7 linked regions of the Homo sapiens genome follow. The protein of the gene in region 3 purifies or fractionates together with the protein of the main gene of each other region. This does not show direct contact. Each region holds a gene or a part of one and is shown on either strand. Other genes may lie near its edges.

The links.
Region 1: the proteins of ZSCAN12 (region 3) and FLG purify together in Homo sapiens (affinity purification with mass spectrometry; 2 studies listed by BioGRID and IntAct, with this or other methods). This does not show direct contact.
Region 2: the proteins of ZSCAN12 (region 3) and A2ML1 purify together in Homo sapiens (affinity purification with mass spectrometry; 2 studies listed by BioGRID and IntAct, with this or other methods). This does not show direct contact.
Region 4: the proteins of ZSCAN12 (region 3) and ME1 purify together in Homo sapiens (affinity purification with mass spectrometry; one large-scale study listed by BioGRID and IntAct). This does not show direct contact.
Region 5: the proteins of ZSCAN12 (region 3) and ASAH1 purify together in Homo sapiens (affinity purification with mass spectrometry; one large-scale study listed by BioGRID and IntAct). This does not show direct contact.
Region 6: the proteins of ZSCAN12 (region 3) and EVPL purify together in Homo sapiens (affinity purification with mass spectrometry; 2 studies listed by BioGRID and IntAct, with this or other methods). This does not show direct contact.
Region 7: the proteins of ZSCAN12 (region 3) and DMKN purify together in Homo sapiens (affinity purification with mass spectrometry; 2 studies listed by BioGRID and IntAct, with this or other methods). This does not show direct contact.

Annotation. Positions count from the first base shown.
Region 1 is NC_000001.11:152,315,240-152,318,739, forward strand, and holds part of FLG (filaggrin), read right to left. Parts: intron 239-3,500; 5' UTR 218-238; coding exon 80-217; intron 1-79.
Region 2 is NC_000012.12:8,846,621-8,850,120, reverse strand, and holds part of A2ML1 (alpha-2-macroglobulin-like protein 1 isoform 1 precursor), read right to left. Parts: intron 2,612-3,500; coding exon of another isoform or gene 2,573-2,611; coding exon 2,423-2,572; intron 1,402-2,422; coding exon 1,207-1,401; intron 453-1,206; coding exon 362-452; intron 1-361. UniProt on the Homo sapiens protein: Is able to inhibit all four classes of proteinases by a unique 'trapping' mechanism. This protein has a peptide stretch, called the 'bait region' which contains specific cleavage sites for different proteinases.
Region 3 is NC_000006.12:28,396,948-28,401,231, forward strand, and holds the start of ZSCAN12 (zinc finger and SCAN domain-containing protein 12), read right to left. Parts: upstream 2,801-4,284; 5' UTR 2,710-2,800; intron 1,820-2,709; exon of another isoform or gene 1,643-1,819; intron 1,527-1,642; 5' UTR 1,459-1,526; coding exon 1,057-1,458; intron 1-1,056. UniProt on the Homo sapiens protein: May be involved in transcriptional regulation.
Region 4 is NC_000006.12:83,221,552-83,225,051, reverse strand, and holds part of ME1 (NADP-dependent malic enzyme), read left to right. Parts: intron 1-1,118; coding exon 1,119-1,292; intron 1,293-3,500. UniProt on the Homo sapiens protein: Catalyzes the oxidative decarboxylation of (S)-malate in the presence of NADP(+) and divalent metal ions, and decarboxylation of oxaloacetate.
Region 5 is NC_000008.11:18,074,108-18,077,607, forward strand, and holds part of ASAH1 (acid ceramidase isoform a preproprotein), read right to left. Parts: intron 1,481-3,500; coding exon 1,434-1,480; intron 1-1,433. UniProt on the Homo sapiens protein: Lysosomal ceramidase that hydrolyzes sphingolipid ceramides into sphingosine and free fatty acids at acidic pH.
Region 6 is NC_000017.11:76,017,307-76,020,806, forward strand, and holds part of EVPL (envoplakin), read right to left. Parts: intron 2,348-3,500; coding exon 2,222-2,347; intron 1,755-2,221; coding exon 1,608-1,754; intron 1,295-1,607; coding exon 1,140-1,294; intron 953-1,139; coding exon 855-952; coding exon of another isoform or gene 789-854; intron 606-788; coding exon 433-605; intron 1-432. UniProt on the Homo sapiens protein: Component of the cornified envelope of keratinocytes. May link the cornified envelope to desmosomes and intermediate filaments.
Region 7 is NC_000019.10:35,510,850-35,515,056, forward strand, and holds the start of DMKN (dermokine isoform 2 precursor), read right to left. Parts: upstream 2,801-4,207; 5' UTR 2,627-2,800; coding exon 2,201-2,626; intron 1,942-2,200; coding exon 1,741-1,941; intron 1,629-1,740; coding exon 1,572-1,628; intron 965-1,571; coding exon 914-964; intron 745-913; coding exon 562-744; intron 1-561. UniProt on the Homo sapiens protein: May act as a soluble regulator of keratinocyte differentiation.

The sequences.
Region 1 (3,500 bases), on a different chromosome or scaffold from region 3:
AGAGCTCAAAATAACCCTTGCTTAGATTATTGATGAGAAAAACAAATGCTCTATCTTTGGTCTTGTCAGAGACTCTTACCTTCAGGATTTGCCGAAATTCCTTTTCCAGAAGTTCCTTCAGCTCTTTTTTACTCAATGTGTCAGTGTTTTTATCTTTTTTTGAATATTGCTTGAAAAGATTAATTATGGCAAAGATGTTTTCCAGGAGAGTAGACATCTTTTGGCAATAAATGTGAACCTAGAAAGAAGAAATGAAAATGCACTTTTTTATACATCTTTTTTTCTAGGTTATATTATTACAATCATTTTCCACATTTTAAACCTACATTTTCCTCTAAGTAATCCATCTTTAAGAATGGAAGATGGACATGAGAAACTTTTCTCTACCATCTACATAAAACAAATGAATAGAGTTTTCCTGACTTAAATAAAATTGCCCATTTTTTGGCCTTGTGCCCACTTACAGCTGGACTTAGTAGTCTCACAGACCTCAGTGTGCTCTAGGTAAGATCATCCCTCTTGCTGATCTTGCCATTGCTAGCAACAAGAATTTAGAAAGGCTGACTGGTTTTAAGCAGTAAAATTTACTTATACAAATTTACTGAAAATTACTTCCCCAAAAGCTAACTTAATAAATGATTAATTTGCTAAGACACAATTCTCTGAAAGCCAGTTAGCCATATGACAAGATACTCAATGAAAGTTCATTCAATTTTTTATTTGTTTTTTAAACATTTCATGAAGTTTATAATATTTCATTGTATAGGATGGATTTAATAGCTCTTCAATATTTAAAGAGAAAGGTTTTTCTGACTGGGTTTCATTTTGCCATTTAAGGAATGTTCAGTTTATCTCATTGGTGAAGAAATTAGTAAGCATGTCAATAAATCTAAGTGTGTATTATATAAAGAATTATAACTTTATTAGGACTTACAAAACCAGGTGAAACTAAAATACTGTAGAAAACAATGTGAAGGAGATTACTGTAGCAGTCACAACTAAAACATTTTTGGACCTTGGTTTGTTTGGTAAGAGGAATTAGATATTAATGAATTTTGCTGTGGTTAAGTGATATATGTATTTGGGTAAGTTTATGGGTATTTACTAAAATAATAGAATTTATAATTTCTAAACCATTAGAGATGAAAAAGGGGAATTAAGAAACTTTAATAATTCAACAGAAGCCAGGAAAGAAGAAAATAAGAAGCATAGAAAAAGAAGGGTAAACAGAAAGCATAAAATAAATTAATAGAATTACAAATAATTTTATTATTACTAATTACAATACATGTAAAATAGACCATATCTTGCCAGTTAAAATATAGATTGTAAAGATTGAATTTAAAAAATTACAGGTATATGCTTCTTACAAATGCATTTTAAAGTTTATGATTATTTTCAGCCAGTCTTATTTATGATGATATTGTATTCTCTGAACTTATCGTTACTTGCAACATATGCAAAATCTCTTTCTGAAGGATCTCACTCTTTGACCTTCTCTTGTACGCTGATGTCAATAATTCTTTAACCTCTCTATTTACTGCTTTATGTACTCACTTCCCTTTTTACCTTGGTTAGACATTATGTTTAATCTCCCCAAATGCCCCTTGGATACATCCACTTGTCCTACTTTTTCTTATACCCACTGGCCAAAGCTTCAACAACTTCTTCTTTCCTTTATCTCTGATGTCCTTGATTTTGATTCCTGAGAACTTGGAAGCCATTGGAAAAGAGTTTCCTCATTCTCCTAATATCTGATCTCCCAACCTACTACATTTCTATCCATATACCTTGCCTTCACTTTATTTAGGGTAATAAACAGTCTGTGCTCCTCCTGTCCTTTACTTTGGCACTGAGCCCCACTCTCTCTTGCCTACCCAAACACTTTGCTTTTGCAGTTGCCTACTTTCTCATATGCATCATTAATTCTTCTTTGTCTACTGGATCATTCCCTTCAATATATATTCATGCTGAAATATCTATCTAACACTTACCTTCCCATCTCCACCCCACCCTCAATCTCACATCTGCCTTTAGGTACCATCTGATTTATCTGTTCCCTTTTATAGCAAAATTCCTCAAAAGATATGCCTATACATTCTGTCTTTACTTCCTCATTCTTGTTTTCCTTTACTCAAGGTATTTTTCTTTCTAAAAAATGTATTAAAACTCTCACCAAGTAAAAAATATCCTTCATATTTCCAAATCCACATATCCATTTTTATTTTACATATTACTTGACATATCAGCAGCATTTGATGCAACTGGCTTCATCCTTCTTCAGAGACCTGGCACTCTCAAGTTTCTCCTCCAACCTCAATGGCCACTTTTTTCTTAGCCTCCTCGTTCAGCTCCTAATGTTGCTATGCCCTATGATTCACTCCTTAGCTTCTTTTCTTTATTATACTCCCTCGGGTCATCTCATCTAGTTCTATATAACTTTTTAAATAAGTTGGCAACTCACAAGTTTATACCCCCAGTCACTGACTGTCCCCTAAACTTGAGATGTGTATGTCTAAATGCCTATCCAGTATTTCTACTTGAGTCTTGTAGAGATCTTAAATCTATTATGTTCAAAACAGAAGTCTTGATTTTCAACTGCTTTACCCTAAAAATGTCGCACACCCGTTATCCTCATCAGTTATTCCTGTCTTCCTGATGGCTCAAGTCGTAAACCTGAAAATTAGTTGATTCTCCTTTTCTTACATCCAATATCTATTCCATCAACATGTTTTATTGATCCTACTTTCAAAATATCCCTAAAATTAGTCAGTTTTCCCTACTTCACTCTGTTTCCTTCTCTAGTAGTTTATTTTTATCACCACAGAAACATGCTGGAGTATCTTCCATCTTAAAACCCTTCCCTCGAACCATTATTCCACCCTCCCCCAACATTTCTCCTAACATCTTACTAGCCTAATTAACTGCTTCATTTCACAGGAGTCTTGGAGAAGTTTTCTCTGCTTTCTCTCTTAAAATGTTTACCACCCACTTTCTTTTTAACCTGCTTCTCTCAATTTTCTATCACCAAACTCTACTGAAACTGCTTTGTGTCAAATCATCTGTGATCTCCAAGTTGTTGAATACAGTGTCATTTCTCCATCATTACCTCATCATCATCATCTTACTTAATCTCTTGGTATGTGAAATAGAATTAACCATTCCTTTCTTAATGGAGTCTTTTTTTCTTGGATCTCATGACACCATATTCTTCTGATATTCCTCTTACCCATTGAATGCTGTTGTCTCTCAGTATTCTTTACTAACCTCTCTTCTACTCAATCTCAAAAGGTTGGAAATATCTGTGGCTGTGTCTTAGACCTTCTTTTTAAAAAAAATCTACACTCCTTTCTGAGGCAATGTCATTGGATCCCATCACTTCAGATACCATCTATCTGATGACTTCAAAATTGATACCTCTAGGCATAACCTTTTCTCAGAGCTTACATTCATTCATTCATTCCTTCATTTATTTAACAAGTATTGAACAGCTACTAAAG
Region 2 (3,500 bases), on a different chromosome or scaffold from region 3:
GACTTCTTGTTGTGACATAAATTGGGATGGAGGGATTACTAGAAAGAAATTTAGAGGGAAGCAGAGAACATCCAGTCAGAGGCAAGGAGGAAGGACCAAAGAGGAACTAACTAGTCACAAAGGCCATCGAGGGAAGTGATAGCCAAGGAGGTTTGGCCGGGGAATGGATACATAAGCTTCAGGCTTCAAAAGCTCTCCCCAGAGAGAGAACACTTGGGAAACTGTCCTGCATCTGTGACCCACAACCCATTAGCATTCTCGGGCTAGAGGCTCAGTGCAAGAACAGGAGGCAAGAGGAAATCTGCAGAGTTCCAGGACTGTTAACATCTCAGAGAATCCACAGACCACAGAGGTGGCTTACCACCCATAGCAGTGCTGTATTCTGGAGATCTGTGACTGCAATCTACTGGCTTCTTGATTTTGGCATTGGACAGTATTTTCAGGCCCACGTCCTGATAGGCATCAGAGAAATAAGTATTAAGGTGGTCCCTTCCCCAACTACAAGGGCTACTGCCCAGGAATTCCACCATCAAAGAGTTGAAACAAAACATTCTTTTTGAATTAATGGTGAACCTGGGTGTTCTTACCTGAAACTCAGCCACTGAGGCTGGTTGGCTTCTGTTCCAGCTAGCATGAAAGGCTTTCAGTTAAACTTATTTCATCATTACATACATGTAATGGTTCTGCCAAATATTATTCGCTATGTCCTTACTATTTGACTTACGCTGTAAACATGCTGAGGGTAGGGACCATATCAGCGTACTCAATTCAACAAAAATACAATGAGCCTTATGAAGGGTCAGGCATTAGAGAGAATACAAAGATGAACAAGACCTAGTTCCTGACCTCAGGGACCTCCTGGTCAGACTTGGGTCACACAGCATCCCAAATCCTGCTCATAGAATAGGTGCAAATTATTTTTTATAATAATGATAAGAGACCTCTGGTCTACCTTCTCTAATTTTCCCTCCTGATTGATCTCATGGAAATCAGTGTTTGAGGACAACAAAAAGAGGAAGACTAGGTTGGACATCTTCTTCAAGCATAAGGGCCAACAGAGGCGACCTTACACGTCAGAAGCTTCTTTCAAGATTTTGTTCCCATCAGTGCCCATATGAGTCTCTCTGCTTTCTTAGATATGAACTTTCCTTTGCCCATTCCCACCACCATCTTTCCCATAAGAACAAAATGGGTAAGAAGACCTACCCGGAAAAAGCTGAAAAGGTCCGTGCCTTCAGAGAACGAGGGCCTCCAGATAATGGAACGCTGGCTCGAATGCCCTTGGGGCATTGGGTCAATGAGGGGCTGAGGAAAGTCCCATGGGCCAGACACTGGACACTGATCATACTCAGCCACTTGATAGGGGTAGTGACCATACCAGAATGGAAACATCCCATAGACCTGGGACAAGAGGGGGAGAGGAAATAAAGCATTGATATAGTGATATCAGTTGAGAAACTTCTCTCAGATTCTGGTGCTCAGTTCACTACTCCTGTATCATTTCTCTTTATTACTTCAGAATTATTTTTATATTCATTCTGTCATAATTACCTTTCTCACTGTCTAAAACTTTAACCTCTATCTCACCTATTTTTTCATAATCCTATCCCCTATTTCGTTCTCTTTCTTGTTTTTTTTTTGAGACGGAGTCTTGCTCTGTCGCCCAGATTGAAGTGCAGTGGGACGATCTCGGCTCACTGCAACCTCTGCCTCCCGGGTTCACGCAATTCTCCTGCCTCAGCCTCCTGAGTAGTTGGGATTACAGGCATGCGCCACCATGCCTGGCTAATTTTTGTATTTTTAGTAGAGACAGGGTTTCACCATGTTGGTCAGGCTGGTCTTGAACCCCAGACCTCAGGTGATCTGCCTGCCTTGGTCTCCTAAAGTTCTGGGATTACAGGCTCATTCTCTTTTCTTGTCTCTGCATTCATACTAACCATGCCTTTCTCTTATCCTTTCTTTTTTTGTTTTTGTTTTTTTTTTTTTGTTTTTGAGACAGAGTTTTGCTCTTGTTGCCCAGGCTGGAGGGCAATGATACAACCTCCGCCTCCCAGGTTCAAGTGATTCTCCTGCCTCAGCCTCCCCAGGATTACAGGCATGGGCCCATGCCCAGTTAATTTTTTTTTTTTTTTTCTGGATTTTTAGTAGAGACAGAGTTTCTCCATGTTGGTCAGGCTGGTCTCGAACTCCCGACCTCAGGTGATCTGCCAGCCTCGGCCTCACAAAGCACTGGGATTACAGGCGTGAGCCACCGTGCCCAGCCCTCTTACACTTTCTAACTTCATTTTCACACCAGCCTTTTTACCGCCTTATGGCAGTGCATTATTTCCCTAAGACTTTCTCTCCCCTGCCTGAAACCTACCTCTTAATTGTCTTCTCCATCAACTCCCTCCTCCCACTCTGTCAGCAGACAGTTACTCACAGAGCGGTTGCTCAGCTCTCTGTCTGGCCTAAGCAGTAAGACACTCTCATCCACCGCCCGGAGCGCACACAGGGATCCGGGAGCTGCCTGCAGCTGCAGCTCCACTTCTGCTCCTGGAAGCTGCTGGGAGGGGGAGAAGCCAAGGGAAACCTGGGGAAGGGAAAGGTATAACTTGGGGATCAGGTCAGCCTGGAAAGGAAGGGAAACAACATAATTTGGGTCATCAGCAAATATGCCCCAGCTATGACATCCAACCCATTCTTTCACTTTTGTACTTATCTTTCTTTGTAAAGTCTAGCTCTTCAGGACGTGTATGCCGTGATAGAGTTGGGAAACGTGAGCAGCACAGTAGAAGGATAGAGAAAGTTTAGAAGACAAAAAGTAGAGAGAACATGTGGAATAACTATATAGAACATGTGGCTTCCCAGTATGGCTTTTTTTTTTTTTTTTTTTAATAGAGACAGGGTCATGCCTGTAATCCCAGCACATTGGGAGGCCAAGGCAGGTGGATGACCTGAGGTCAGGAGTTCAAGACCAGCCTGGCTAACATGGTGAAACCCCGTCTCTACTAAAAATACAAAAAAAAAAAAAAAAAAAAAAGCCAGGCATGGTGGTGCATACTTGTAATCCCAGCTACTCGGGAGTCTGAGGCAAGAGAATCACTTGAACCCAGGAGGCAGAGGTTGCAGTGAGCCGAGATCGCACCATTGCACTCCAGCCTGGGCAACAAGAGGAAAGCTCTGTCTATAAAAAATAAAAAAAATAGACAGGGTCTCGCTCTGCAGCCTTGAACTCCTGGGCTCAAGCGATACACCTGCTTCAGCCTTCCGACTAGCTGGGACTACAGGTATGCATCACCACACTCAACTAATTTTTTTTTTTTTTTTTGAGACAGAGTCTCACTCTGTCACTCAGGCTGGAGTGTAATGGTGTGTTCTTTGCTCACTGCAACCTCCGTCTCCTGGGTTCATGCAATTCTCCTGCCTCAGCCTCCCAAGTAGCTGGGATTGCAGGCATCCACCACCATGCTTGGCTAATTTTTGTATTTTTAGTAGAGACACGGTTTCACCAGGCTGGT
Region 3 (4,284 bases):
ACCCTCTCTATTGCATTTTGTATCACAGTGCTAGATTATACTTCTGTTTCATTATTTCCCTAAGTTTCAAACTCTTTATACCGGGGTTTCCCAGCATTGGCTCTACTGACATGTTCCTAGCATTGGCTCTACTGACTTTGTTGTCTGGGGCTGTCCTGTGTGTTTTAAGAGGTTTAGCATTAGCCTTGCCCTCTCTACCCACTAGATACTAGCAGCACCTCCCCGAGTGATCCACTAGATACTAGCAGCACCTCCCCAAGTTATAACAACCAAAAATGTCCCAAGACATTGCCAAATGCCCTCTGGTGCACAAAATTGGCACTGGTTGAGAACCACTGTCTCATTTTAGTATTAAAAACAAAACAAAAACGTTCTACATAATTTGGTTCTCTTTTACATCTTACAATTAGTAAAGCTCATTTAGACTCAAGGAGAAAAGGTTAGGGGCATCTGTCCTACAGAATAAAATCTCAATTCCAGAGGTTGAGATTCAAGGTCCTGGACACTATCTCAACTCTGCTATTTGGAATTCACCTTTCCAACCTAACTGGGCTTTCTGCTACTCAAAGAAACACAGATTCCCCACCCTGCTCTCCTCACTAACTTTCCATTGTACTCCCACATCTCATTCCCCTGAAATAGTTAATGTCTTCATTTTAAAACCCTGTAATGGAGTCAGAGCAATGGATATATCTGCAAAACCTTAATTCTTAATTATTTGTATTGTGCAACAGAGTGATGCCCCTCCAAGAGACTGCTTCCCATCCTGCTACTGTCATCTCTTTGATACTTTCTCTTGTCTTAGAAGTTTTCTAAGATGAGCAGCATGTTTATCAAACAGAATTTTGTAGCTTAATAGAGAAATATAAAATCCTTCCACAGAAAAGTTATAAATAAGTTGGGACCACATTAGCCAACTTTCCGTGAAACTCATGCCCCTTTCTGATGCACCAAACTGTCAAAAACATGCTTTGTGAAAAAATGGCTGTTCTTCACTCTGGCCTAGAAATCCACAATTTATGTTTTCTCAAGCAGAAGTCACATCTTTTTTCTCACCTGCTCTCCTGGTTCATCCAGTTCTCTCTCTAAATCCTCCAGCACAGTCACCACCTCCTCCCCACTCTCTGGATGCTGCTCCTGCACCCAGGCCTGGAGCTCCTCAGGTAGGATGGTCAGGAACTGCTCCAGCACCAGCAGCTCCAGAATCTGTTCTTTGGTGTGGGTCTCTGGCCTCAGCCACTGATGGCAAAGTTCTCGGAGTCGGCTCAAAGCCTCACGGGGACCAGATGTCTCCTGGTAGCAGAACTGTCTGAAGTACTGACGGAAGACCTCTCTGCTATGGGTGTTGTTTTTACGCAGGTCCCAATCCTGTCTGGTGGTATATTTCTCTTCCTCTATCTTTACTTCCAAAGGTTCATCCTGGTCCATGTGGGCCTGGATAGCCCAAGTAGATGCCATTTTAGCTGTGCTAGAACTACCGGTGTTTCAAGTAAGATCTCACCTGGAAACTGTATTCCTGGACAGTCCTGAAGAATAAGCCATCATTATTAATACAAACTCCACCATAAAGTAAAACTGCAAATTCTGAGAACTTAACTATGACCTTTGAAATCTGACCTCCGGATTAATGTACAATACTTACTCAGAAAAATACTCTGATAGAAAAGACTTAAGATTAGACCGATTTAGGCCGGGCACAGTGGCTCACGCCTGTAATCCCAGCACTTTGGGAGGCCGAGTCGGGCGGATCACGAGGTCAGGAGATCGAGACCATCCTGGCTAACATGGTGAAACCCCGTCTCTACTAAAAATACAAAAAAAAAAAAAAAAAAAAAATTAGCCGGGCGTGACGGCGGGCGCCTGTAGTCCCAGCTACTCAGGAGGCTGAGGCAGGGGAATGGCGTGAACCCGGGAGGCGGAGCTTGCAGTGAGCCGAGATCGCGCCACTGCACTCCAGCCTGGGCGACAGAGCGAGACTCCGTCTCAAAAAAAAAAAAAAAGATTAGACTAATTTAAAGAGAAAGACTGAGGAAAGGTGCCAAGTTGTTTCAGGACTTAAGAGTAAGACTTGTTGGTAAACTTATTCTCATTTGGTCCTAAATGAAAGACAAATGGAATAAAACTAACATTTAGATCAAGTAAATAATAATAACAAAAGGTTAGGACATCCTTGATTAGTTACTTTTATCTTTTGAATGTCCAGATGTCTGGTGGAAACCATGAAATCACAAAAGCTACAGTCATGTAAATTTATTTCTTCAGGGACTTAATCTTTCTGCTCCTCATTCTTCATTTATAAAGTGAGAAGGCTGAAGAGGTTACTCTTTAAGGCTTCCCTCTAACCTCGTGGTCTGTGATTATAATCTGAAGTGAGGAAGGCCCAGGAAAGGGTCCCTAGGACGCCGGCGAGCGTCTGTGACCCACCACTGTCCAGAAATGTCGGTAAGCGCTGAACCCAAGGATACACAGCCCGAAGCAAACGCGGAAGGTATGGGCCTTACAGCCTGGAATTGCTGCAGAGACTGGGAGCCAAACCCTCATCCTAATGTCCCAACGCACTTTGGGGAGGGAGAGCTTCCCGCGGATCCGCCTGGGTTTGGGAGGACCGGGGTCCACTCTGCACCGGCCAGGGCCTGAGGGGCCCAGCAGCTGGAATACAGCAATCTCCCGCCCACCTGCTCGCAGCGTACAGAGCACAACATCGCTCACCTGCGGCCCCCAGGGCCAGAAGAGAACTCCCTCCTACGGAGCGAAGGCAAGAGGCCTCGAACCCTTTTGGGACCCGGAACCCATCAAAAGTGACCCACAAAGGCCGGAAGCGGCCACGGGGGGTCTAAGAACCAGCCCGCGCGGGGCGCACTTCCGCGGCCGCTCTAGGAAGGGAGCGAAAGGGGCTTTCAACTCGGTAGTGTTTCCGCGCGTCTACGTGAGAGGAAGGTTGATGGCTTTCAGGCCCGCTGGTAAATGGAACGGGTTTATCTTCTCCTCTTCTTTACCCAGCCATTGTCCACACTTCCCCCGACCCGATGGGTGGTCGAGGCTTGTAGAACTGATCTTAAGACAGGGAAATCCCTTGCGTCTCCATTCACTTTGGGATTCTGTGTCTCTGAGGTTAGAGATGCCTCAAAGGGATGTTCTCCGGGGGACCTTCCCAAATCCGCGCTTAGCGGTGGCGAAGGGACTTCTTCCACACAGACTTCTCAAGGGCCAGCCGGCTGGTTTCTGCCGGCTCTTTCGCCATCCACGATTCTTTTGATGTTCTCTTTTATGTGCTGATGTATGATTATATGTCAGAAAACCCGGTTCAATGGAAAAACTATAAAAAAAGGATAATTTAGTAAAATAGCAAGATATAAAGTTAACACACTAAAATCAACGACCTTCATATATGTGAATAATCAATGATAACGAGTTACGAGATATAATGGAAGAGAAGACCATATTTACAAGAGCAGCAAAAAAGTGAAACTAGGAATAAACTTAACAAGAAATGAACAAAACTTCTATGGGGAAAGCTTTAAAACATTCCTAAAAGGCCAAGTATACATTTAAACAAACAGAAAGCGATATGAGGTTCTTGGAAAGACTCAAAGAGGTCAGTCCTCCCTAAATACGTATGCAACTGTAGTATTCCAACAAAAATATCAACAAATATTGTTCTGGAATTAGATAAACTGATTATAAAATTCATGTGGGGAAATAAGAATAGCCAGGAAACCCATGAAAAAGAAAAATGGTGAGGGTCAACCTTATCAGATACTGGAACATACCCATATAATTTTAGTGTATTAACAGAGAGAAAGAATAGACCAGAAATGGATCCAGGTATGTAAGGATATTGAGTAAATGATGAAGGTGACACCACATATCAACAGGGAAATGAAGAACTTAGAAGTTGTGCTGGGATGATAACCGTTTGGCAAAGGTAAAACTGGATTTGTATTTCCCACCACACATCACAATAGAGATAAATTCTAAATGGATCTGAGATCTAAATATAAAAAATCCACCTATACATGTATTAGAAGAAAACATGAATAATAATTCTAACACGTGGGAATAGGGAAACATTATCTAACCATATGACTCAAAATCTAAAACCCATAAAAATAATAAATCTGGCTACATGAAAATAAAATGTATTGCTTGTCAAAAAAAAATAAGGAAAGAAAAAGGCTTGCAACATATCACAGGCAAGGGCTAGTTTTCCAAATACCTAAAGAGCTCCTAAAAGTTGAGAATAACCAATAACCCAATAGAGAAAATGGCCAAAAGAAATAAATA
Region 4 (3,500 bases), about 55 Mb from region 3:
TTTTGTATTTTTAGTAGAGATGGGCTTTCACCATGTTGGCCAGGCTGGTCTCCAACTCCTGACCTCAAGTCATCCACCCTCCTCGACCTCCCAAAGTGCTGGGATTACAGGCGTGAGCCACCGCGCCCAGCCAAGTTCATGCCTTTTTAAAGCAAGCAGTACATGAGATTCCTCAAAACAATTATGACAAAATATTAATACTAGGCAAAATGAAGACAATTGTTGAAAAATATTGATAACTTAATCTTCTTCTTCCTTGCCAATTCTACTCCTGCCAATGAGTTTGTTTCCTATGTGATTCTCCACATAACTATTTTATTTTATTTTATTTATTTATTATTATTATTATTTTTATTTTTTTTTTTTTTGAGCTGGAATCTTGCTTTGTCGCCCAGGCTGGAGTGCAGTGGTGTGATCTAGGCTCACTGCAACCTCTGCCTCCTGAGTTCAAGCGATTCTCCTGCCTCAGCCTCTCAAGTAGCTGGGCTTACAGGCACCCACCACCACTCCCCAGCCACTTTTTATATTTTTAGTAGAAATGGGGTTTCACCATGTTGGCCAGGCTGGTCTCAAACTCCTGACTTCAAGTGATCTGCCCCACTCGGCCTCCCAAAGTGCTGGGATTGCAGGCATGAGCCACTGTGCCTAGCCCACATAACTCTTTACAATATAGAAATATATATGATTTTCCCAGTTTTTATTTTGGAAATGTGTCGATTCCTAAACCCCAACCTAAAATATCATTATTTTCAATACTTAAATATTAGCCCATCATTTTTTATCTTCAGATGTCTATAATTGGAAGCCTATATAGAAATGGTTGATGAGCCTATCGGTTGAACCACTGCAGAGAATAGAGTGATGGTCTTAGGGCATCCTGTACTTTGCATGCTCCTCCTGGAAGTAAAGAGTAAGACAGAGAATAGTAATAATCACCCATTCCAGAACTGGTTGCACAACATCACAAAAGCTTGTCCAGACTTATTAGCAAGTTAATAAAAAACTAGACTTCTTTCTAAGTACTTATAATTTAGGCTGTGGGGTAGTTCTGTTATGATACATTTGTTTTAAAATATTCTGCTTCTTTTTAAAGTGAGTTGTATGTGTCTTTGTTGTAGGGACGTGCAATTTTTGCCAGTGGCAGTCCTTTTGATCCAGTCACTCTTCCAAATGGACAGACCCTATATCCTGGCCAAGGCAACAATTCCTATGTGTTCCCTGGAGTTGCTCTTGGTGTTGTGGCGTGTGGATTGAGGCAGATCACAGATAATATTTTCCTCACTACTGCTGAGGTATTGTAAAATCCTCTAAGTTTACCAAGGGTTTAAAATACCAAGTGTGCTCAGCCTAGGTTGTCTAATGTTTTATTTATCTAGCATCTCAGCTTACTCTCTGAAAGAAGTAAAGTCTGAAGAACTTCCCAGTGGAGTATAAGGGGTGGGTAGCATGTTCATACTGACTCACAAACGAAAGGTTCTTCTTCAGTAGTCATTAGAAAAATTGTGTTTTTGATTTCTTAAGAGGAACATTTTTGTGTCTTCACACATCAGATCAAGTTCTGTGACAGTGATGGGACAATTAAAAATATTGTTTCCAGGGCTGGGTGTGGTGGCTCATGCCCCTAATCCCAGCACTTTGGGAGGCTGAGGCAGGCAGATCACTTGAGCCCAGGAGTTCGAGGCCAGCTTGGCCAACATGGTGAAACTTCATCTCTACTAAAAATACAAACATTAGCCGGGCATGGTGGTGTGTGCCTGTGATCCCCCCTGACTCAAGAGGCTGAGGCAGGAGAATTGCTTGAATCCAGGAGGCAGAGGTTGCAGTGAGCTGCGATTGCACTACTGCACTGCATCCTGGGCTACAGAGCTAGATTGTTACCTAAAAAAAAGCAAAAACAAAATTGTTTCCAAATGATGATTAAGTGGTAAATATTTCCCTGTTGAGAACAGTGCTTAATAATGAATGGCATTTTGAAGGTTTAAAGTGAAAGTCTGATATGGTATAGTGGACATGTTTATTATTCAGGGTTCAGTACAGGAGACAGAAACCACCCTAGTATTTAAGCAGAAATTAGATCAAAATAGGAAATTAGTTGTTTATAAAATCATTAAAAGAATAGGAGAAGTGAGCTCTGTCTGGGCCTTGAGGAAAGATTCTCAGAACATCACAAAGCAGGCCCACTGGGGAATCTTGTACTGTCATGAAACTGTGAAAGATCTGAGATTTTACTCTACTTGCAAGCTAACAAGTTAGCCACAATTTCATAGATATTGACAGAAGACATGAAACTCTTAGGTCAGAGACAAAGGACTTTGATAATTCCTGGCACAAGAGATATCATGAGCTGCATGTTCCTATCAGTTTCCCTCCTCCTCCCAAGCCTCAGCAGGATGATACGGTGATTGGGCATATATTTATAAAATCATGAGCTTTTTGATAATCATCAGGTTGATGTTCATCAGGTTGATATCATGTTTCAGATTTGAACAGGTAACCATTTATGGATGAGAAACTTGAGTGAATTTCTTTTCTTACGATTAAACCTTTGCAGCTGAACTGATCCAAAGAACTTGATTGATATTCAAATATTTTTATCCTGCAAATATTTTTTCCATTGTGAAGAGGAACCCCAAGAATGTAGACAAAGATTCTTATGTTACTGATGTGATCTAAAGGAGCATAATCTTGGTGGCTAGCACCCGGTGTCATTCTATGAGAACAGATGCTTGGAAGCAATAATGTTCTCCTGTCGTTTTCTTCACTGCATTAAAAAGCATGCCAGCTGATGTCACAGGTTTTCTTTAACTCAGAAAATCTTGTTAAACATAAATGGATGTCTAATTACTAAGAGAGCATGTAAAAGTAGCTTTTGCATTAAGGAAAATGTAATCATTGTCTTTTAGAATAGGCACATCAGAGTTTTGGTTACCTGCAGTAGTCAGTGTTTTCTTTCTTAAATAACTCTAGCACCCTCTAGTGACAAATTCCGTGAAAAATATTTTCAGTTTACTCTCCAAGAAAAGTAATAATCACTACCAAAAAACACTTTGAAGGAAAAAAAAAATGTGGTGTTGTCAACATACCACATCACTAATTCTTATCATAGCTAGTGATCTCTCTGGCTGCATCTCTTGGCCTTTCTACTGGTTTTCTCTTAGGCTTCAACACAATATTCCTGTTTTTTATATCATCTAAATTATGTCCCACTCATTATTTTCCTTGTCTCCTTTTCATCTCCCTTTTAAGTAAGAGTTTTTTTTCTAGCATTCATTTTTTGTTACCAGTTTTTTCTTCTCTTTTTCTTATGCTTTCAAAGATCTCATTCATTCATTCATTTCTATTATCTTCATTCTAGTAGTGGCCAAATCTGTGTATCTCTATTCTCATCTTTTTCCATATCTCCAGTTGCCTGTTGGGTAATTCCACAGACATGCCCTACTGTGTCCTTAAACACAACATTATGAAAGCCTTCCTTATCTTTCCTCACTGTCAGCATTCAC
Region 5 (3,500 bases), on a different chromosome or scaffold from region 3:
AAGGGAGTAGAAACGGCCTCAAACATGGAAGGCACCTCATTAAATGTTCAATGAATTGGGGCAGTGAGACCAACAGAGAGACATAATCAATCAGTAAGGCAGACATGTCACTGAAGGCCAGAATGATGCCAGTGATGACAGAAAGGAAGACTTTCAGACAGCAGGCCATTGAAGAAAGAGCTGGAATGAACACTGGCCCCAAACAACATCCAAACTGGTTACCTCTAAATTGCTTCCTGCCAAATACTGGCCTCTTTCTACATAAAGGCGAGTAAGTCAAAAGAACTTAGTTTATTACAGTTTCACGCTATCTGGGACAGAGGCTATTTAAAATACATCGTTTAGACAACAACAGTACAACGTAAGTAATTTGGAATGTTGCACGAACTGAAAATGTCATCTTGATATCACTAGATAGAGTTGTACTGTTTCCCCCTACAAACAGCAGGCTACTTTCAGCGAAAGGGCAGTGTAGGAGAAAAAGATCACCACCCCCTATACCTGTTCCTTCTTTTCTCTGTTCTGTACACTCTGAGGGGTCTGTGAGCTGTTATTATGGCTTTCTCACAGGCCCATTTAAACACTGAGGATTTGGAAAGACCAAAATCTAGACTAAAAATATTAATGTTAAACACACTGAATCATGACATTGGTCCTCCTCTTAGGTGTTCCAATCCTGTTTTGTCCTCGACAGCTTTGTTGTGCCAAGGTTTATTTTGAGAACGTTTCACATATGAGGGCCTATGCTTTTTTGTTACAATATAATTTGGTGGTTTATATCCAGGCACCATAGAGAATCACAGGTCATTTCAAATACAGCCCTTACATTTGTCAAAGATGAGAAAAACCCTTCATGGTAGACAGGAGAATTGAGTGGAGAATGAAAATCCTTTCCTTTTTTTTTTTGAGACAGAGTCTCACTCTGTCGCCCAGACTGGAGTGCAGTGGTGCGATCTCGGCTCACTGCAAGCTCCGCCTCCCGGGTTCACGCCATTCTCCTGCCTCAGCCTCCAGAGTAGCTGGGACTACAGGCGCCCGCCACCACGCCTGGCTAATTTTTTGTATTTTTAGTAGAGACGGGGTTTCACTGTTAGCCAGCATGGTCTCGATCTCCTGACCTTATGATTTACCCGCCTCGGCCTCCCAAAGTGCTGGGATTACAGGCGTGAGCCACCGCGTCTGGCTGAAAATCCTTTTCTTTCCGATGATTTTGATAGTCTAGCGACGGGCATTTGAATCGGAAGATATTTTCATATTTGTCCAAGATCTCAGCCAAATGCATAATAAACAAATCTGAGAAACAAACCTCTGTCTCGGAATGGGAAACATGACTTAAGATTTTATTCACTATCGTTCGTTTATGAGCAATTATTACATACAGAAAAAACTTCACAAAGGTCAAAGGGAGTTTTGATCATCTGATGTTTACTCACGTTGGTCCTGAAGGAGGATAGGTTGATTTTCTGCAGTCCTCTGTCCACTGAAAAGCAAAGAAAATTAAGTTTCAGAAAATAACAAATGCTTGCCAACGGAATAAGCAATTTCAAAAGTAGTTAATCTGTGAAGACAACATCAAGTCTGATATTGCTCTTTTATACGTTTCAATGCCTCTTAAAATAAGTCTTTTCTTTCCAAGAAAACTTCTAAAATCCTAAACCATTAAGTGGATTTTCAGTTTCAATTCAATTTGTAAAAGTGCTAGGTGTTATAATTTGGCTCTAATATTTCAAATATATTGAGTAACGAACAAATGTAACAAAGTAGATGGAAAATATTTATGTTAGAGAGGCTGACTTAGCACTAAAAGTAAATGACCTGATAGGATGTATTATCTGCACTTACCAGCCATGTGTGTTGCAACCTGTCCTGGGATTTGCCTCCCAAACCAGATTTTCAGGGCACACAGCACAGGGCCCTTCATCATCTTTCCATGGTAACTTACCATCCCAGCCTCATCTCCTGACACTCCCCTTAGTATTTATAGCCATACGCAGGCACTTCCTATCATCTCTCACCCTTCCATGCCTGTGTCTGTGCTATTCCCTCTTGCTAGAATGCCTTTTCCCCACCTGGTGAACTGCTGGTTCTAACTTCCAAGATTCAGTTCAAGCATTTTCTTTCTTGTGAAGTCTTCATCTATCTTCCATATGAAAATATTCATACCCTCCTTTCCTCCCACAGCATTTGTGCACACTCTCATCAACATGTTTATGACACTGCTTTATAATCATCTGTTTGCGTTCCTTGTCAATACCAGACTCTGCGCTCCTTGAGGTGAGGACGGCCCCCAACACTGACGTCACTGCCTGAGACAAGGAATGAACAGACTCTTTTAGGGGAAGTTGTCCAAGCTTAGTGGCAAAATGGAACCTTCTCCTAAACTTATCAAAAAAAGTCCACACAGATTTATGATTCTTTTGTTACTCATTCAACATATCAAGTGTCTTTATCTCCTTTCCTCTGGAGAACCAGTTCTGTGAAAGTAAAATAATTGTTTTAAAAAAGTACAAATCCAAAATAAGATAAAGTAGAGTAGGTAAGAAAACTCTTGGAACTGTAGCTTGAGCTCAGAAAACTCTTGGAACTGTAGCTTGAGCTCAGAAAACTCCTGGAACTGTAGCTTGAGCTCAGAAAACTCCTGGAACTGTAGCTTGAGCACAGAAAATGTATCTGCTGGACAGCTGTGTAAGAATGGAGGTCTAGCACCTTGTTTTAACTTTTGATAACATGGGGAATATATAAAGTAGGTTGACATTACCTGTGATTCAAACATTAGCTGTCAAATTTGCCTTACCACACTGTAAGTTTCTCACATATGTCTGGCTTTGTCTGGTAATTTTGCGTTGAATTCATTAAGAAACAATATCAAGTCTGTAGCAAAAGCTAATTTCCAAAGCCATTCGTGTTCAGTAATAGTGGCTGGGGGCAGCTCGTTTAGAAAAACTTCAGTCTCAACTGTGAACTCAAAGACTGCAAAACTTTACAGCTAGCAAGCTATCTAATGGCTCTGTCACAAGAGACATCAGGATATCCGGCCTCTATTTCTGATAATTCACAGAAATGATGACGGTTATATCCACAAGAGCAAATGAAGCTCATGGTTTATATTGCCGGTTCAATAACACATGTGAGATTCCAATATTTTCCACAAAATATCTGAAAAGGAATACTATAATAAATAACCATGAGCTTTAAACACCTCGCATGTTCACAAGTTTTGTGAATTTGCTCAACTCCGCCTTTTTCTACTCACAAATATTTTTACTACTGTCAATTTTTATAGATCTTAGCAGATTCCATTCCAGGTTATACTCAATCATTATTTTCTCAGCTTCTTCGAAAACATCCTCGCCTGTAGTTGTTTTATACAGATGATTCAGAGGCTAACTCTTCAGTCACTTCAAACTTGGCAATGATCATCTAATAAATATCAACAACTGATCAGTTATCGGTATGTTGACAGTCAAGAAAAATCACTCAAAAATCACATGCTTTGTTCT
Region 6 (3,500 bases), on a different chromosome or scaffold from region 3:
GCTGTTCTTGGGTAAGGAGTTTACACAATGCTGCAACCTCCCCAGGTAGGCTCCCCCTTGCAGCCAGGGGACATCTCTTCCTAAGATTCTCCAGGCTTCCTTGCTATTTCAGGAGCTTCACCAGAATACCTCCTGGGGTGTTGACATTGGGCCCTACTGGAACCTTCCTGAATGATCAGGCGAGCTGGGCATTATTACATCTGCTTCAGGGATGAGGAAACCAAGGCCCAGAGAGTTATGTAGTCCAAGATCCTGGAGCTGGTCAGTGGAGGAGCCAGGAGGGGAACCAGCTTGTCTGAGCCCGGGTCTGTCCACACCCTTCTCCATCTCCATCCCAGCCACCGCTCCTGCACTTGCCTCACCTCCCTCAAGTGTGAGCACCAGGGCCGGGCCGCTTCTCATCCCAGCCGCCCCTTCCCGCTGCTCACCCACCTCATGGCTGTGGATGCGGCCCTCCAAGTCCTCCAAGGGTGTGGGGCGGCTCAGCGGGGCCCGCGCCCAGGCCAGCACCTGCCTCTCTATCTGTCCCAGGTCTCCATCCAGCCGGGTCATCTGTGTCAGGAGCTTCTGGGCCTGTGGGTTGGCCAGGTCTGAGCCAGATGGAGCTGGGGGCAGAGGTGCTGGTGAGGGCCCAGGGCCTATCTCCAGACTGCCAGATAGGTGCCCCCACCAGGTGCCCACAGAGGGTCCTGTCGGGGTAGGGTGGAGGGGATGGGCAGGGCCACCCCAGAGATGAAATCCCCAGAGTGATGGTCCCTAACCCAAGGCGACCCCTGCCCATCACAGACCAGTCGGAAGTCGGAATCTACTCCTTCTAGCCCCACAGCCACCTCTCCCCGGGCCACCCTGGGTACCCTGCTGGCTGGGCCGAAGAGACTCCACAGCACTGGCCTTCAGGCGGCTCTGGACTGTGGCCAATTTCTGCTTCAGGGCCTGCAGCTCTGAGGCCAGCCTAGAATGAAGAGGAGATTGAAGAAAGAGGTCCCCACTCTGCCTCTCTCCCTCCCCAGCCCCAGTAGACGCAGCTTCAGGTGAAGGCCAGCCTTTGAGCAGGGGTCTGTTGGGCCATGGGCTTGGACACCGCAGGGCCGGCCTGCTCTGCCCACAGCCTGCCCCTGAGTATCCCTACACAGACCTACCGGGAGGCCCTGGCCACAGCATCAGGGTCTGGTGCTGGGATGCAGAAGCAGGCGGCGGGAGCACGCTTGGTCTCCCCGCCAGGGCCCTGCACGACCCAGGCGTGCGGGTCAGTGTTATCTACCAGCTTATACCGCTCACCCTGCAGCAGCTGCACCTGGGGGCACAGAAAGGGAGCAGCTCCTGAGGGCTCAGGGGCAGGGGGCCAAGGCCAGGGCAGAGTAGGGGCTGGGGACAGAGACAAATGGGGACAGCAGCTGGAACAGGGACAAGAGTAGGGTGGGAGGTGCTGGGGTAGAAAAGAGGCAGGACAGGACTTGGAGAGAGGAGGGTCTGAGTCAAGGGAAGGAGTAGGGCAAAAGTGGGCGCAGGAGACAGCTGGGGATGGAGCAGGGATGGGCTTGGGCAGGGGCAGGGGATGGGTTGGGCGGGGCTGGATGGTGGCAGGGGTGAGGTGGGGGAGTTCGCACTTCTCCTGAGTCCCAGTCGCAGATGCTGTCCACGTGCAGGGGCTGCTGAGGGGGGTTTCTTCGCTGTGGCAGAGGGGCCACATCCCGGCTTCGCCGCTGCAGGTCCCCAGTGGCCCTCTCGGTGACGGCCAGCCGTTTTTCCTCTGCCTGCCGGGGGCCCAGGCAGTGGGGGACTCAGGCCAGGCTGCATTGGAGGCTGGCCACACCATACCTGTCCTTCAAAAGGCCTAGAGGCTGGCCTTCATGAAGGCAGGGGTCTCTAAGTCAGCAAAGTAAAAGGAGCCCCTCTCTGGGGGACCTAGGATCCTGGGATCTGCTAGTTGCAGGGAGGGGGATGGCACAGCATCACCCAGGCCACCAAGCAGAAGCTAGACAGGCCTCAGAGCTCTCCCAGGCTGCCCTTGTCCCACTGCAAATGAGGAAACTGACGTCCAGAAGTGGGAGGAGCTTGCTGGTACCTGGCCAGCCTCCTGCTAGAGTAAACCCCCCTGCCAGCACCCAGGCCAGGGCTTGGGATAGGACTAGGTACCAAGGCAGAAGGGGTGAGGCCCAGAAAAATGGACAGGACCAATTCCCAGAAGTGGGGTGCAGACGGCCTGGTGGGGTTGTCTCACCTCCAGCTGTTGCAGCAGCTCTGTGGGGGCGCCAGGGGGGCCCCCAGGTGCAGGGCTGTACTTGGCATCCAAGTTGGAGTTGAGCTTCGCCAGGGTCTGGCTGACTGAGTCGGCCTCTTCCTGGAACTGAGTTCACTGGGTGGTCAAGGGCAGAGCCTCGTGCAACCTGCTGCCCACTGACCCTACAAACCAGCTGAACCTAAGCCAGCTAAACACAAAGCAGCTAAACCTAAACCAGCTAAACACAAACCAGCTAAACACAAACCAGATAAATGTGAAACAGCTAAACTAAACCAGTAACCGCTAAGCCAGCTAAACCTAAACCAACTAAACACAAATCAGCTAAACCTAAACCAGAAAAACCTAAGCCAGGTAAACCTAAACCAGCTAAACTTAAACCAGCTAAATCTAAACCAGCTAAACACAAACCACCTAAACCGAAACCAGCTAAACCTAAACCAGCCAAACACAAACCAGATAAACCTAAACCAGCTAAACCTAAACCAGCTAAACACAAACCAGATAAACTTAAACCAGATAAACCTAAACCAGCTAAACCTAAACCAGCTAAACACAAACCAGATAAACTTAAACCAGATAAACCTAAACCAGCTAAACACAAACCAGATAAACTTAAACCAGATAAACCTAAACCAGCTAAACTTAAACCAGCTAAACCTAAACTGTCACTCTCCCCTACTCTGGTCGGTCTTTCTTTTTCCTACCCAGGCGGCAGGACCTTTTATCACTGGTGTGCTCTTGCAAATGGGGTCTTATTTGTGCACTGAACTTAATTTTTTTAAGTGGGTCATAAAACACTTGGTCTTCGTCCTTCCTGCACAAATGAAGGGCACCGTCACCTGCCTCCCTCCAGCACCTGAAGTCTTTCTTGCTGGGACAGAGGGTATTGGAGCTGCACTTGTCCCAGCCCCGGAGAAGAAGCTGTGCTTTAAAGAAGCATTCCAGGTGCTTTGACGGAATTTTTGTCAACGTGTGTGATCACAGTCTTGTGGTTCTATAGGAAAATGTATGAAACATTATCTGCCCCCAAATCCCAGTTGCATATTATATCAGGGTTTCTCAACCGTTTTTTTTTTCATTATTATTCTCCTAAAGAGCCTTTTAAGAAATATTTTATTTAATTTCCCCCCACCTCATCCCCATAAAATTTTATTTATTTATTTATTTTGATAGAGATGTATCTATTTGTATAGAGACAGGGTCTTGCTATGTTGCCCAGGCTGGTCTGGAACTACTGGTGTCAAGCAATTCTCCTGGC
Region 7 (4,207 bases), on a different chromosome or scaffold from region 3:
TGGAGAGACTGCCGGCTCTGGAGTCAGTGAGGCCCGGGGCCCTGGGGTGGCAGCTGCGGGGTCACAGCGCCCCTTCCTGCCCTCACACCCATCGTGCAGGGGCCCCATGTGTGAATGTCGTCTGCACCGTCGCTCTGTCAGCGTCCGTAGGTCTCCCGGATCACAGTCCTGCCCCCATTCTCCTGGGAGCTTCCCAGACAAGTGTCATATTCTCCCATGTCCCCCTCTTTCTCCGCCACCCCACGGTCTCCTGAGACTTGCCAAGTGGACTTGACTGCAAGAGCTTAGACAGGCGGGATAACGTCCCCACCATCACAGAGTGGAAAATAGGGATACAGAGTCAGAAGCAGTGGGGTGGCTCTGGCAGAAACGATAGTGCGCGCATCAGGGGCACAGCATGGGTGGGGAACAGGAGGCTGAGGGAGCCTCAGGGTGACGACTATCAGCGAGGCCGCCCATCCTCGGGCAGCGGCAGCTTTCAGAGAAACTTGGAGCCCTCTCCCGGCAGGGACCACTAGGGCCTCACCCCATCTCAGCCTTCCACAGAGGTGCCAAACTCACCCAGGAGGACTCACTGCCGCTGTCACCTCTGCTGCCACCACTGTTGCCACTGCTGCCACCACTGCTGCCGCCACTGCTGCCGCCACTGCTGCTGCCACTGCTGCTGCCACCACTGCTGCTGCCATTGTTGTTGTCACCATTGCTGCCACTGCCACTGCTGCCCGACTGTGAGCCGCTGCCTCCCTGAGGGGCAGGAAGGGAGCAGGGCTGGGATTAAAGACAGAGCACCAAGACGGGCCCCTCCTCCCTCCCTCTCCACCCAGGCCATATTCCATGATGCCCAGTCTAAGGGGAGCAGAACTTCTCCATTTCCTCCTGGTGCACAACTCCTGGGTTGCCCCTCTCCACTCACCCCAGAGTTGCTGGAGCCTCCACCTGAGCCAGATGGTGGGGGATTCGTGCACTGTCGAGGGAAAGGGATGGTGAGTTTGGGGACGGTGAGTTTGGAGACGTTGGCCTCGGCCATGGACACAGGCCAGGCCTCTCCCATTCTTTGGGGCTTGGCTTCCTTTCTCCTAATGTGTTTCTCCCACCTCCCCTTCCCATCTGCCTCCTCCCCAGGCCCAGGCCCGTCTCTTCCTCCTTTTTTTTTTTTTTTTTTTTTTGAGACAGGGTCTCACTCTGTTGCTCAGGCTGGAGTGCAGTGATGCGATCTCGGCTCACTGCAACCTCCATCTCCCAGGTTCAAGTGATTCTCCTGCCTCCGCCTCCCAAGTGGCTGCAATTACAGGCGCATGCCACTATGACCGGCTGATTTTTGTATTTTTAGTGAAGACAGGGTTTCACCATGTTGACCAGGCTGGTCTTGAACTCCTGACCTCAGGTGATCCACGTGCCTTGGCCTCCCAAAGTGCTGGGATTACAGGTGTGAGCCACCTCGCCCAGCCCCATCTCTTCCTCTCACCCCAATCCCTCCACTCCCCCATCTTGCTTTCCTCTTTGTCTTTCCCCAGCTCTCTGTAGCCTGCACCCAGTGGCTTCTTCATTTGTTCCCAGCCCCTTCCTCTTACCCCTTCATTCTGGTTGCTGGCTCTCACTGAACCATAGCCAGGCTGGGCCACAGCTCCCTGCAGAGAGGGTGAGACTGAGAGTAGGATCCAGAGGGACCAGGGAGGCACGCGGAGCATGTGGGCTTGGAGGGAGGGAGGTGGCAGGTAGCAGGTCTGGGGGTGACTTTACCTGAGTGTTGGTCCCAAAGTTTGGTGGCCCTCCATTGCCTCCTTGACCCCAGGGAGCTCCCTGAGGATTCATTCCAAAGCTGCCTGCTGAGTTTCCGGGGTATCCGTGGACCCACGGAGTCCCCAGACCTCCAGGATTGCCCTGGCCCTGGCCTCCAAGGCCACCTTGAGAGCCAAAGATGCCATGGCCTCCAGAAGTTTCCTGCAAGAACAACATACCTGCACTTAGTGGGACCATCTCTGACCCTGGTAGAGAAGAGCCAGGGCAAATCATAAAGAGACCAGGAGAGAGACAGGCAGAGGGACTCCAGGGTGGCATAGGAGGGGGGCAGAACATAGAAGGAAGCTGCCCCAGAAGCCTGCAAGTAAGAGATCCATCCATCCTTTCAACCGTTTCCCAAGAATCTCAGCCCAGCAGCCCACAGCCTCCCATTTCCACATGCAGCCCCACAGCCACTCACCCAAGCACCATTGTGGCCAGGCACCCCCTGCCAGGAGCCGCGGACAGCATCTGCTCCGTGTCGAATGACATCTTCTGCCTGTCTGCCAATCTCGTGCCCAGTGTTTCCCAGAGCATGGGCTGCTTCCCCGACCCTGTTGCCCAAAGCATCTGCTACGCCAAAGCCTGGAACCTGCCTGACTCCAGTGCCAACTGCTTCTCTGGTCCCTTGGCCAAGGGCCTCACTGACTTTAGAGCCAGCTGCCCCTCCGGCCTCTTTGCCAATGGCCTTTCCCACCCCTTCGCTCAGGGCGTCTCCCAGGCCATGTCCAAGGGCCTCCCCAATATTTGTCCCAGTGCTTTCCTCTCCGCTCTGCAGGGGGCCAGCCTCCCCACTGCCCAGGCAGAGGGCCAGCAGGAGGCAGGCCAGGGGCCCCTGGAACTTCATCTCTGCCCAGCCCCCTCTCTCTCCAGAGTGTCTTCCTCCCACCAGGGTCTCCTCCTTGCCGCCCTTGCTCTGCGTCTCTGTGCCCTCCTCTGTCCTCCTCCTTCCGACTCCCTGTCCTCCCTCCCTCTGGGTCTGCAGCCTTCTCTCTCCTGTCCTCAACTGCCTGGGCTTCTCAGAGTCCACCTCCCTGTCACTACTCCTTATACTCTAGGTTGGGAGAAGGTGACAGGGCTGGGCAACCTGAGGTCCCTCCCCGCAGTGACTCAGGGCCCAGCCACCAATAGGGTAATCAGCTGTTATTGTGAGTCTGAGAGTCTCTGTCGAAACAGAGAGTGAGCCGCATCAGGGAGGGAGGGAGAAATGGATGAGGTGATGCAAAAGTGCTCCCATTTCCCAACCCCAGGCATTCGGGGAGCTGGGTGGGGGCAGGGGCATCTAAGGAGACAGGTTGTCGTTGGCTCCTGGAGGCGGTGGGGTGGGGGCAGACTTAGAAGAGAGGAGTTACTGGCAGGACCCCACCAAAGGAGTAAGGACAGGGAAGCCCCAGGGGACAGGACCCACCCAGGCTCAGCCAGCCTGGCTCAGGGGCTCCAGAGTGACAGGCATTGCCCGTCCTCGGCCTGGCCTTTCTCGGTTTCAGCACCTCAGCCTCTCCTCTCCCTCTCCCCTCCCGCATTGCCACCTACAGGTGACTGCCTTCTTGTTCCTCCACACCTTCCAGCCCACAGAGAGAGACTGGCAAACACGGGGCTGCGTGTCAGTTTCTGAGATTCTGGGGAGAGCCCCCGGGGGGACCCTCGGTGTCGGGGAAGGAGGTGGCCATAGCCCTTTGAGTGGTCAGCAGGGTGTCTCAGCGTTCAGGCTGCTCCCGGCTGAGAAAGCTGGGCGCGGAGCAGGGCAGCCAGGCGCGCCAGCCACCCCCAGGGAACGAGTGGGAGGGAAGGCCAAGGGAGGGAGCCGCTGACCCAGGCACCCATCCTGTTTACGCAGCCCTAGAGGGGCACGTGTGAGTATAAGCGCCTATGAGGGGCGGGACTGGGCCAGCTCACCCCACCCATCCCCCAGGCCAGGGGCCAGGGCAGCAATGGCAAGCGAGAAGAGGGTAGCGCAAGGTCAGGAGCCATCCGTGAGAGCCACGGCCCTCTCCCCAGTCCCAGCTCGGGATACAGAACCTGGGAGCCTCCCCCCGCCTCACCCCTGCCCAGCAAGTGTGGCTGCTTCTCTATTCCCAGGGGCCACAGGGCCTCCCACTGTTTCGTATCACTGGGGTTCATCGCCCAGTTAGGAGGGGCCAGTTTCCATCAGCCTTTCTCAATGTCTCTCAGTCAGTCTCTCTCTTCTCTCCACCCCAATATCCGCACCCCAGCTTATAACATCCAACACTTCTTACCTTGTAAACACTATCCCCATCTGTCCTCCTCAGCTCCTACTTCCCTGTTATTCCATCTCTGACTCGTTAATGATGATAATAGCGATGGTGGTAATAATAATAATAATAATAATAATAATTACAGCTCCAGCTTATCAGCGGTTCTGTATGTACCCAGCATTGGACTAAGCACAAGCAGTTTAAGAATTATA